Linked DNA regions of Homo sapiens: region 1 is reported to be linked to region 2. Evidence: microRNA targets listed by miRTarBase, many of them from high-throughput screens and not tested one by one. Region 2 holds a microRNA gene; the other region holds the end of a gene's coding sequence. Distances are between the middles of the regions.

The links. The annotated mature microRNA hsa-miR-1302 reads UUGGGACAUACUUAUGCUAAA and lies in region 2 at 2,134-2,154, shown strand. An mRNA with a match to its seed (bases 2 to 7 or 8) in the 3' UTR can be bound and repressed. Matches are read on the target gene's strand: a 7mer-m8 pairs with bases 2 to 8, a 7mer-A1 pairs with bases 2 to 7 and ends in A, and an 8mer does both.
Region 1: miRTarBase lists WDR12 as a target of hsa-miR-1302. Seed matches in the 3' UTR shown: 7mer-A1 at 1,588-1,594.

What each region holds. Positions count from the first base shown.
Region 1 is chr2:202,876,146-202,881,145 of GRCh38, reverse strand. It overlaps WDR12 (WD repeat domain 12), which reads left to right. Exons shown (of 13, transcript NM_018256.4): 13 at 209-5,000. The coding sequence ends at 286. Among named protein-coding and RNA genes, the nearest start is that of ICA1L, 6.9 kb to the right of the region's middle.
Region 2 is chr2:113,579,980-113,585,157 of GRCh38, reverse strand. MIR1302-3 (microRNA 1302-3) reads left to right here and starts at 2,062; the gene lies at 2,062-2,199. It overlaps LOC124907875 (a long non-coding RNA gene), which reads left to right and starts at 1,128. Exons shown (of 3, transcript XR_007087204.1): 1 at 1,128-2,363; 2 at 2,673-2,790. It also overlaps the pseudogene WASH2P. RefSeq lists silencers at 1,154-1,338, 1,349-1,528 and an enhancer at 930-1,761.

The DNA.
Region 1 (5,000 bases), 89 Mb from region 2:
AAATGATAGCTTTTAATGTTTTAATAAACTGTATCATAGTATAGTAGTGAAACAACGTTGGTCCCTTTACTCACTCTCAATGCAAGTTAACTGCTCACCCATAATTCCTTTTGTAATGAAAATCATTAGTATTTAATTAGGTTTAGCTATGATGTGAAATAATTATATTTATTTATGTTTTCTTGTCTTTTTCTCTCCTTTTACACAGCTACTTCTGAGTGGAGGAGCAGACAATAAATTGTATTCCTACAGATATTCACCTACCACTTCCCATGTTGGGGCATGAAAGTGAACAATAATTTGACTATAGAGATTATTTCTGTAAATGAAATTGGTAGAGAACCATGAAATTACATAGATGCAGATGCAGAAAGCAGCCTTTTGAAGTTTATATAATGTTTTCACCCTTCATAACAGCTAACGTATCACTTTTTCTTATTTTGTATTTATAATAAGATAGGTTGTGTTTATAAAATACAAACTGTGGCATACATTCTCTATACAAACTTGAAATTAAACTGAGTTTTACATTTCTCTTTAAAGGTATTGGTTTGAATTCAGATTTGCTTTTTTATTTTTATTTGTTTTTTTTTTTTTTGAGATGGAGTCTTGCTCTGTTGCCTAGGCTGGAGTGCAGTGGCGCAATCTCAACTCACTGCAACCTCCGCTTCCTAGGTTCAATCGATTCTCCTGTCTCAACCTCCCAAGTAGCTGGGATTACAGGCACACATCACGATGTCCTGCTAATTTTTGTATTTTTAGTAGAGACGGGGTTTTGCCATGTTGGCCAGGCTGGTCTTGAACTCCTGACCTCAGGTGATCTGCCCACCTCAGCCTCCCAAAGTGAGCCACTGTGCCTGGCCGAATTAAGATTTGTTTTTGAAATGCTGTAAAAGGTTATATTGGAAATCCAGTAATTGATTGTTGAGATTTTTATTTCTGTTAGAGACTTAGATTTTTTTAAGTTAGCTATTTTAAAAAAGCATTCAAAAAGATTAATGAAAATTGTAATAGAGAAAAAGTTAGAAATTCAGTTCCTTTTGGCAGAATAAATGTTCAAGAAAATTAGGCTGTGAGGGTACTCAGAACATTAAAAAAAATGTAGGCTGGGCATGGTGGCTCACACCTGTAATCCCAGCACATTGGGAGGCCGAGGCAGGTGGATCACCTGAGGTCAGGAGTTTGAGACCACCCTGGCCAACATGTCAAAACCCTGTCTCTGCTAAAACTACAAAAATTAGCTGGGCATGGTGGCGACCGCCTGTAATCCCAACTACTTGGGAGGCTAAGGCAGGAGAATTGCTTGAACCCGGGAGGCAGGGGTTGTAGTGAGCTGAGATTGTGCCACTGCACTCCAGCCTGGGTGACAGTGCAAGACTCTGTCTCAACAACAACGATAACAAAATATTGATTCGGCAGGGCACGGTGGCTCATGCTTGTAATCCCAGCATTTTGGGTGGCCAAGGCAGGCGGCTCACCTGAGGTCAGGGGTTCGAGACCAGCCTGACCAACATGGTGAAACTTTGTCTCTACTAAAAAAAAAAAAATCCAAAACAAATTAGCCGGGTGTGGTGGCACACTCCTGTGGTCCCAAGTACTTGGGAGGCTGAGGCAGGAGAATTGGTTGAACCCAGGAGGTGGAGGTTGCAGTGAGCTGAGATCATACCACTGTGCTCCAGCCTGGGCAGCAGAGCCAGACTCTATCTCAAAATAAAGACAAGTAGATTGCCAATTTTTGAAGAATTCATCAAGATATTTTAAGGAAGGCACTTTATATTAAATATATGTCAGATCCTTTAGAAATTGCATACAGTTGGTTGGGCACGGTGGCTCACGCCTGTAATCCCAGCACTTTGGGAGGCTGAGGCGGGCGGATTGCCTGAGCTCAGGAGTTCGAAACCAGCCTGGGCAACACAGTGAAACCTCGTCTCTAATAAAATACAAAAAATTAGCTGGGCGTGGCAGCATGTGCCTGTAGTCCCAGCTACTCCGGAGGCTGAGGCAGGCAAATTGCTTGAACCCGAGAGGCAGAGGTTGCAGTGAGCTGAGATTGTGCCACTGCATTTCAGCCTGGGCAACAGAGCAAGACTCTGTCTCAAAAAAAAATAAAAAATTGCATTGCATACAGTTTTCACTGTAACCCTAATCTTTCCTCATGTGTAGATTAGAATAAATTTTTTAGACAAAACCTTTCATCAGTATTAAACATTCTACAGATTTTATGATATCATTAGCATTTATCTTTATGCATGTGTTATATAAAAATATTTAAAGTAAATGTATTTTTTAAATGTTATTTCCATTATTAATGGATTGATACTCCTTAAGTAGAGCATTCACAACCTTTTAGTAATATTTGGGAAATATGTTTGGTCTCATTATTAGATGGTATTACATCTCAAATGATGTTCCTGTTGCAGAAGTCTGCGAAACAATATCTAAACTTGGCTGCAGTTGAGAGCTAAACAGTGTATTGAACCAGTTAGGAGTTTAGTTCTCTGTAGAAAACCAGAGGCAGTCCAGGGCTGATGTAGGTTTTGTTCCACATTCTTTAGGATCCTAGGCTCCCTCCATCCCTGGTATGTGGTCCTCATTTTCATATAGACCAAGAGCTAGAGCTCCAGTTACCATTTCTTAAAGTATATTTTAATGCCAAATAGTGAATAAAGGTGGCCAGAAAATTCATGCACAGAATCCTTCTTTTTCTCATTTTGTGCTGATTGGTATAAATTTTATTGTATTTGTAGTCTCTGGAAATCTTCTAACTTTGAGAGGACAAAGATGAATTCCTAGTCCTGTTTTGGATGGTCTTCAAATGATCCTTAAGGGCAGTTATTTAAAATGTCTTTCTTAACTCACCCAACCTAGGCTGACCGAATGTAGTCTGTATAAACTAGATGGTTAAAGATAAAGAAGCCTATATATCAGATGCATAGACAAAGAATAAAATGGCATCCAGAACTGGTCCCCACCTATTCCCAATCCTGGTTCCACAGCAGAATACATTCATAGTTCAGGCATTCTTCCTTGAGATAGATATAATGTAAGTGACCAAGTCTCTTGGACAAGTATTGTCTCTGATCAATCCCTGCCAAACTCCTTTCCTTGGTTAACTCAAGTGGTTAGATCTTACTCCCTGAACAGAAGGAATATGAGAGGTCAATACATGCCTAGACTATTCAGTCCTCTGATATTGCTCCACACCCTTTCCCTCAAAAGCCATGAGACCTTTCAATGGTCCCAGTTCCTCTACCAGAACACCAGAGATGCCTGCTTTACATGGACTTATATATTCCCAAGAATCACTTGGATAAATGAGTGGTGCTGCTTTCCCGTGGTTGGGGAAAAGCTAGGAACCTGACAATGCAGTGCTCAGAACCTGCTGACCGGTACTAGTTATGCTGTCTTGCCATAGTAGTGCAGTTCTTTAAAATGTTGATACTTGCTCTCTTATCAAAGGTTGGTTTTTTTGTTTTTTTGTCAAGACAGGGTCTCACTATGTCACCCATACTGGAGTACAATGGTGTAATCTTGGCTTACTGCAACCTCCACCTTCTGGGCTCAAGCTGGCCTCTCACCTCAGCCTTCCAAGTAGCTGGGACCACACCCAGTCAATTTTTTATTTTTTATTTTTTAATTTATTTTTATTATTACTTTTTTTGTAGAGAGAGGGTTTCGCCATGTAGCCCATGCTGGTCTTGAACTCCTGGGCTCAAGCTGTCTGCCCACCTGGACCTCCCAAAGTGCTGAGATTACAGGCATGAGCCACCGCACCCAGCCCAAATAAAGTTTTAAGAAATTACTTGGCCAGGCATAGTGGGGCCTTTGTAGAAAAACATAGCTTTTCTATGAGAAGATGATCAATATTTTCTTTTCCTTTGAATTTGGAATTACCATTTTGGAACTGTTGTCAACAATGCATAATAATATATCAGAATGCTTCCTAGTATATTATTGGAGAAAGAACAAACAAAAGTTTAAATTGATATAAAATGCATATAATGGAACAAGCAACCCTGCAAAAAAAAAAATATATATATATATATACCATCTGGGAATTTCTGATAATAACATTGAAATCTGTTCACACAGTCTAAAATTCTTTTGATGTATCGTAGTTTTGAAAAAAAGGTAACAGTTTACTATATATAACAAATATAAGGAAAATATTAAATTTTTTGAAAGATACTAGTTTTTATTTTTGTTCATTTTTTAGAGACAGGGTCTCACTATGTTGCCCAAGCTAGAGTGCAGCGGCCCGATTATAGCTCACTGCAGCCTCTAACTCCCGGACTCAAGGGATCCTCCCACCTCATCCTCCTAACTAGGACCACAGGCGCATGTCACCACATCTGGCTGATTTTAAAATTTTTTTGTGGAGACAGTCTTGCTGTGTTGCCCAGGCTGGTTATGAACTCTTGGCCTCAGGCAGTCCTCATGCCTCAGCCTCCCTAAGTGCTCGGATTATAGGCATGCCACTGTGCCTGGCCAAAAATACAGATTTTTTAATAGATATTACTATGGCTCCTATTCTTAAAGGAAAAAATATGACATTTTAAGACTATATGCAAGGGATATTCCAATAATATCTTTTTTATTTAAAAAGCCACTAATTAGAATCAGATTTCATTAGGCAAGTGAAATCCAGATTTTACTAGCCAGAAACTGCCAGGTGTAGAAACAGCAAGAACATTTTAGTCACTTCATTGTTGACATTTTTGACTATCATAGATTAAGTATCAAACACAATAACAGTATTTTGTTATATGAACCAAATATATCTCTTTTTACGAGACATAGTCTAGCTCTGCCATCCAGGCTCAACTCCTGGGTTCAAGGGATCCTCCTGCCCCAGCTTCCTGAGTACGTACCTGGGAGTACAATTGCATGCTGCCACACCCAGCTATTTTTTTTATTTTTGTGGAGATGGCGTCTTGCTATGTTGCCCAGGCTGGACTCCAACTCCTGACCTCAAGCAATCATCTCACCTTGGCCTCAAA
Region 2 (5,178 bases):
ATTAGCAATTATCTTTTGAAAAGCCTGTAGTTGCTCATCTGAAGAAGTGACGGACCACCTCTTATTTAGTGGACAGACAATAACTAGTGGAGAAGACAGGGGATTTTGTTGGCGGAAAAAAATTTTTATCAAAAGTCGTCTCCTATCAGGGAGTTTTATGAGAAACCCTAGCTCCTCAGTTCCACAGTGGGTAACTGTAATTCACTCTAGGTCTGCGATATTTCCTGCCTATCCATTTTGTTAACTCTTCAATGCATTCCACAAATGCCTAAGTATTCTTTAATAATGGTGGGTTTTTTTTTTTGCATCTATGAAGTTTTTTCAAATTCTTTTTAAGTGACAAAACTTGTACATGTGTATCGCACAAAATTTCTAGTCGACAGCACTGCTTTACAGAATGTAAACCGTGCACTCCCAGGAAAATGCAGACACAGCACGCCTCTTTGGGACCGCGGTTTATACTTTCGAAGTGCTCGGAGCCCTTCCTCCAGACCGTTCTCCCACACCCCGCTCCAGGGTCTCTCCCGGAGTTACAGGCCTCGCTGTAGGCCCCGGGAACCCAACGCGGTGTCAGAGAAGTGGGGTCCCCTACGAGGGACCAGGAGATCCGGGCGGGCAGCAGCTGCGGAAGAGCCGCGCGAGGCTTCCCAGAACCCGGCCGGGGCGGGAAGACGCAGGAGTGGGGAGGCGGAACCGGGACCCCGCAGAGCCCGGGTCCCTGCGCCCCACAAGCCTTGGCTTCCCTGCTAGGGCCGGGCAAGGCCGGGTGCAGGGCGCGGCTCCAGGGAGGAAGCTCCGGGGCGAGCCCAAGACGCCTCCCGGGCGGTCGGGGCCCAGCGGCGGCGTTCGCAGTGGAGCCGGGCACCGGGCAGCGGCCGCGGAACACCAGCTTGGCGCAGGCTTCTCGGTCAGGAACGGTCCCGGGCCTCCCGCCCGCCTCCCTCCAGCCCCTCCGGGTCCCCTACTTCGCCCCGCCAGGCCCCCACGACCCTACTTCCCGCGGCCCCGGACGCCTCCTCACCCGCGAGCCGCCCTCCCGGAAGCTCCCGCCGCCGCTTCCGCTCTGCCGGAGCCGCTGGGTCCTAGCCCCGCCACCTCCGCCCGCGCCTCCGGGTCCTAACGCCGCCGCTCACCCTCCGCTGCGCCCTCCCCGAGCGCGGCTCCAGGACCCCGTCGACCCGGAGCGCTGTCCTGGTGGACCGAGTCGCGGGCCTGGGCACGGAACTCACGCTCACTCCGAGCTCCCGACGTGCACACGGCTCCCATCCGTTGTCTTCCGAGCGTCAGGCCGCCCCTACCCGTGCTTTCTGCTCTGCAGACCCTCTTCCTAGACCTCCGTCCTTTGTCCCATCGCTGCCTTCCCCTCAAGCTCAGGGCCAAGCTGTCCGCCAGCCTCGGCTCCTCCGGGCAGCCCTCGCCCTGGGTGCGCCCCGGGGCAGGACCCCCAGCCCAGGCCCAGGGCCCGCCCCTGCCCTCCAGCCCTACACATTGACCCGCTTTCCTGCGTCTCTCAGCCTATCTGACCTTGTCTTTACCTCTGTGGGCAGCTCCCTTGTGATCTGTTTAGTTCCCACCCCCCTTTAAGAATTAAATAGAGAAGCCAGACGCAAAACTACAGATATCGTATGAGTCCACTTTTGTGAAGTGCCTAGAGTAGTCAGAATTCACAGAGACAGAAGCAGTGGTCGCCAGGAATGGGGAAGCAAGGCGGAGTTGGGCAGCTCGTGTTCAATGGGTAGAGTTTCAGGCTGGGGTGATGGAAAGGTGCTGGAAATGAGTGGTAGTGATGGCGGCACAACGGTGTGAATCTACTTAATCCCACTGAACTGTATGCTGAAAAATGGTTTAGACGGTGAATTTTAGGTTATGTATGTTTTACCCCAATTTTTAAAAAGCTAGTGAAAAGCTGGTAAAAAGAAAGAAAAGAGGCTTTTTTAAAAAGTTAAATATATAAAAAGAGCATCATCAGTCCAAAGTCCAGCAGTTGTCCCTCCTGGAATCCGTTGGCTTCCCTCCGGCATTTTTGGCTCTTGCCTTTTAGGGTTGCCAGATTAAAAGACAGGATGCCCAGCTAGTTTGAATTTTAGATAAACAACGAATAATTTCGTAGCATAAATATTTCCCAAGCTTAGTTTGGGACATACTTATGCTAAAAAACATTATTGGTTGTTTATCTGAGATTCAAAATTAAGCATTTTATATTTTATTTGCTGCCTCTGGCCACCCTACTCTCTTCCTAACACTCTCTCCCTCTCCCAGTTTTGTCCGCCTTCCCTGCCTCCTCTTCTGGGGGAGTTAGATTGAGTTGTAACAAGAACATGCCACTGTCTCACTGGCTGCAGCGTGTGGTCCCCTTACCAGAGGTAAGGAAGAGATGGATCTCCACTCATGTTGTAGACAGAATGTTTATGTCCTCTCCAAATTCTTATGTTGAAACCCTAACCCCTAATGTGATGGTATGTGGAGATGGGCCTTTGGTAGGTAATTACGGTTAGATGAGGTCATGGGGTGGGGCCCTCATTATAGATCTGGTAAGAAAAGAGAGCATTGTCTCTCTGTCTCCCTCTCTCTCTCTCTCTCTCTCTCTCTCTCTCTATCTCTATCTCATTTCTCTCTCTCTCTCTATCTCATTTCTCTCTCTCTCTTTCTCTCCTCTGTCTTTTCCCACCAAGTGAGGATGCGAAGAGAAGGTGGCTGTCTGCAAACCAGGAAGAGAGCCCTCACCAGGAACCCGTCCAGCTGCCACCTTGAACTTGGACTTCCAAGCCTCCAGAACTGTGAGGGATAAATGTATGATTTTAAAGTCGCCCAGTGTGTGGTATTTTGTTTTGACTAATACAACCTGAAAACATTTTCCCCTCACTCCACCTGAGCAATATCTGAGTGGCTTAAGGTACTCAGGACACAACAAAGGAGAAATGTCCCATGCACAAGGTGCACCCATGCCTGGGTAAAGCAGCCTGGCACAGAGGGAAGCACACAGGCTCAGGGCTCTGCTATTCATTCTTTGTGTGACCCTGGGCAAGCCATGAATGGAGCTTCAGTCACCCCATTTGTAATGGGATTTAATTGTGCTTGCCCTGCCTCCTTTTGAGGGCTGTAGAGAAAAGATGTCAAAGTATTTTGTAATCTGGCTGGGCGTGGTGGCTCATGCCTGTAATCCCAGCACTTTGGTAGGCTGACGCGAGAGGACTGCTTGAGCCCAAGAGTTTGAGATCAGCCTGGGCAATATTGTGAGATTCCATCTCTACAAAAATAAAATAAAATAGCCAGTCATGGTGTCACACACCTGTAGTCCCAGCTACATGGGAGGCTGAGGCGGGAGGATCACTTGAGCTTGGGAGATTGAGGCTGCAGTGAGCTATGATTGTACCACTGCACTCCAGGCTGGGCGACAGAGAGAGACCCTGTCTCAGGGAAAAAAAAAAGTACTTTGTAATCTGTAAGGTTTATTTCAACACACACAAAAAAAGTGTATATGCTCCACGATGCCTGTGAATATACACACACACCACATCATATACCAAGCCTGGCTGTGTCTTCTCACAAATGCACTGCTAGGCACCACCCCCAGTTCTAAATCACACCAGCCAGTTCACCCTCCAGATGGTTCACCCTCAACTTCATAAAAGTTCCCTACCTAATCTACTGACAGCCTCATCCCCGACCTAATTTTAAAGATTTCCTAGGAGCTGCAATGGGAATCCTGGACCTCAGCCTGGACAAAGAACAGCTGCAGGTCATTCTCATGTGTGGACACGGAAGCCCTGCCTGCCTTTGCTGGCCAGCTGGGCTGAGTGGGCCTGGGAAATTAAGGCTGCAGGGTTGGTCCCAGGCAGTCTTGCTGAAGCTTGCCACATCCCCCAGCCTCCTCGATTTGCCAGGATCCAAGAGCATGGACTTTAGGAATTCCTGGTGGAGGAGTGAAGAAAATGTGACAGGGTGTCCTAAGCCCCGATCTACAGGAAGAAAACTGGAAATAAGACTGAGGACTTAGTTTAAGATGTTCCTACTCAGCCTCTAGCTTTTGTGCTACAGTTCCGGGAACAGACTCCTCTCTCCTGAAAACCATTTCCCTCTGCAGCATTAAATTTCACCAAGATGTCTTGCTTGTGGGAAAGACTTCCAAGGATGCCTGGAGAGAGGAGGATGGAAATGTCCTGCTCTCTAAACAGATAGACAGATGCAGCCAGACAGAAAATAGTTTATCTTGCTGAGGTTTCTAATGTATTTGAAAGAGGCCTGGGTCTAGAAGTCTACCCAGAGGGCTCTGTGTTGTGCACGCAAAGATAAGAACCTTCCCTGTGGGAGTTCCAGAGCCAGTTTTCATAAACACCCATCGGTGACTGTGTTCAGAGTGAGTTCACACCATCCTGACCTGCCCTGAGTTAGACCTTACATGGTCTTCCTCCTCTAGGAAGCCTCTGCAGCCCAGGAACCTCCCCTTATCTGAAATGAACAGCATTTGAAGCTTCACCAGACAGACCAGACAGCTTAGCCCTCGTGTTGTGCTATGTGGGTTGTTCTCTGAGAGGCAGGAGAGCATAGTGGTTACTAGGAAGGGAAGGACTTTGGGACTAGACTGCCTCGGCTGGAGTCCTCTTTCTGCTTCATAGCCACGTGATCCTAGGCATGTTACCTGTGCCTCAGTTTTCACTCTATCAATATGTAATAACTGAATCTGTCTTTGTGGTGAGGATTCAGTGAGTTAACATATTTGAAGTGCTTAAAAATGAGGCTTGTGTCCATAGATTAATGAGTGAATACACAAATGGTGATATGGACATACAGTGGAGTATTAGTCATAAAAAGGAAGGCAGAGCTGATCCATGGCACCATGTGACTGAACCTCAAAAGCATTAGGTTAAGTGGAAGAAGCCAGACACAGGTCACCTATTGTGTAATTCCATTTATAGGAAATATACAGAATATGTAAATCTGTGGAGAAAGAAAGCCGATTTCCAGGGGCTAAGGGGAGGGGAGAATGGGAAGTGGCTGCTTCATGGGTACAAGGTTTCATTTTGAGCTGATGAAAATGTTTTGGAACTACATAGAGATAGTGTTGGCACAACATGGTGAATGTACTGAATGCCACTGATTGTTCACTTTAAAATGGTCAAACTTATGTGAATTTCACCTCCATTAAAAAAAAAAAAAAGGACCAGATGTGGTTGCTCA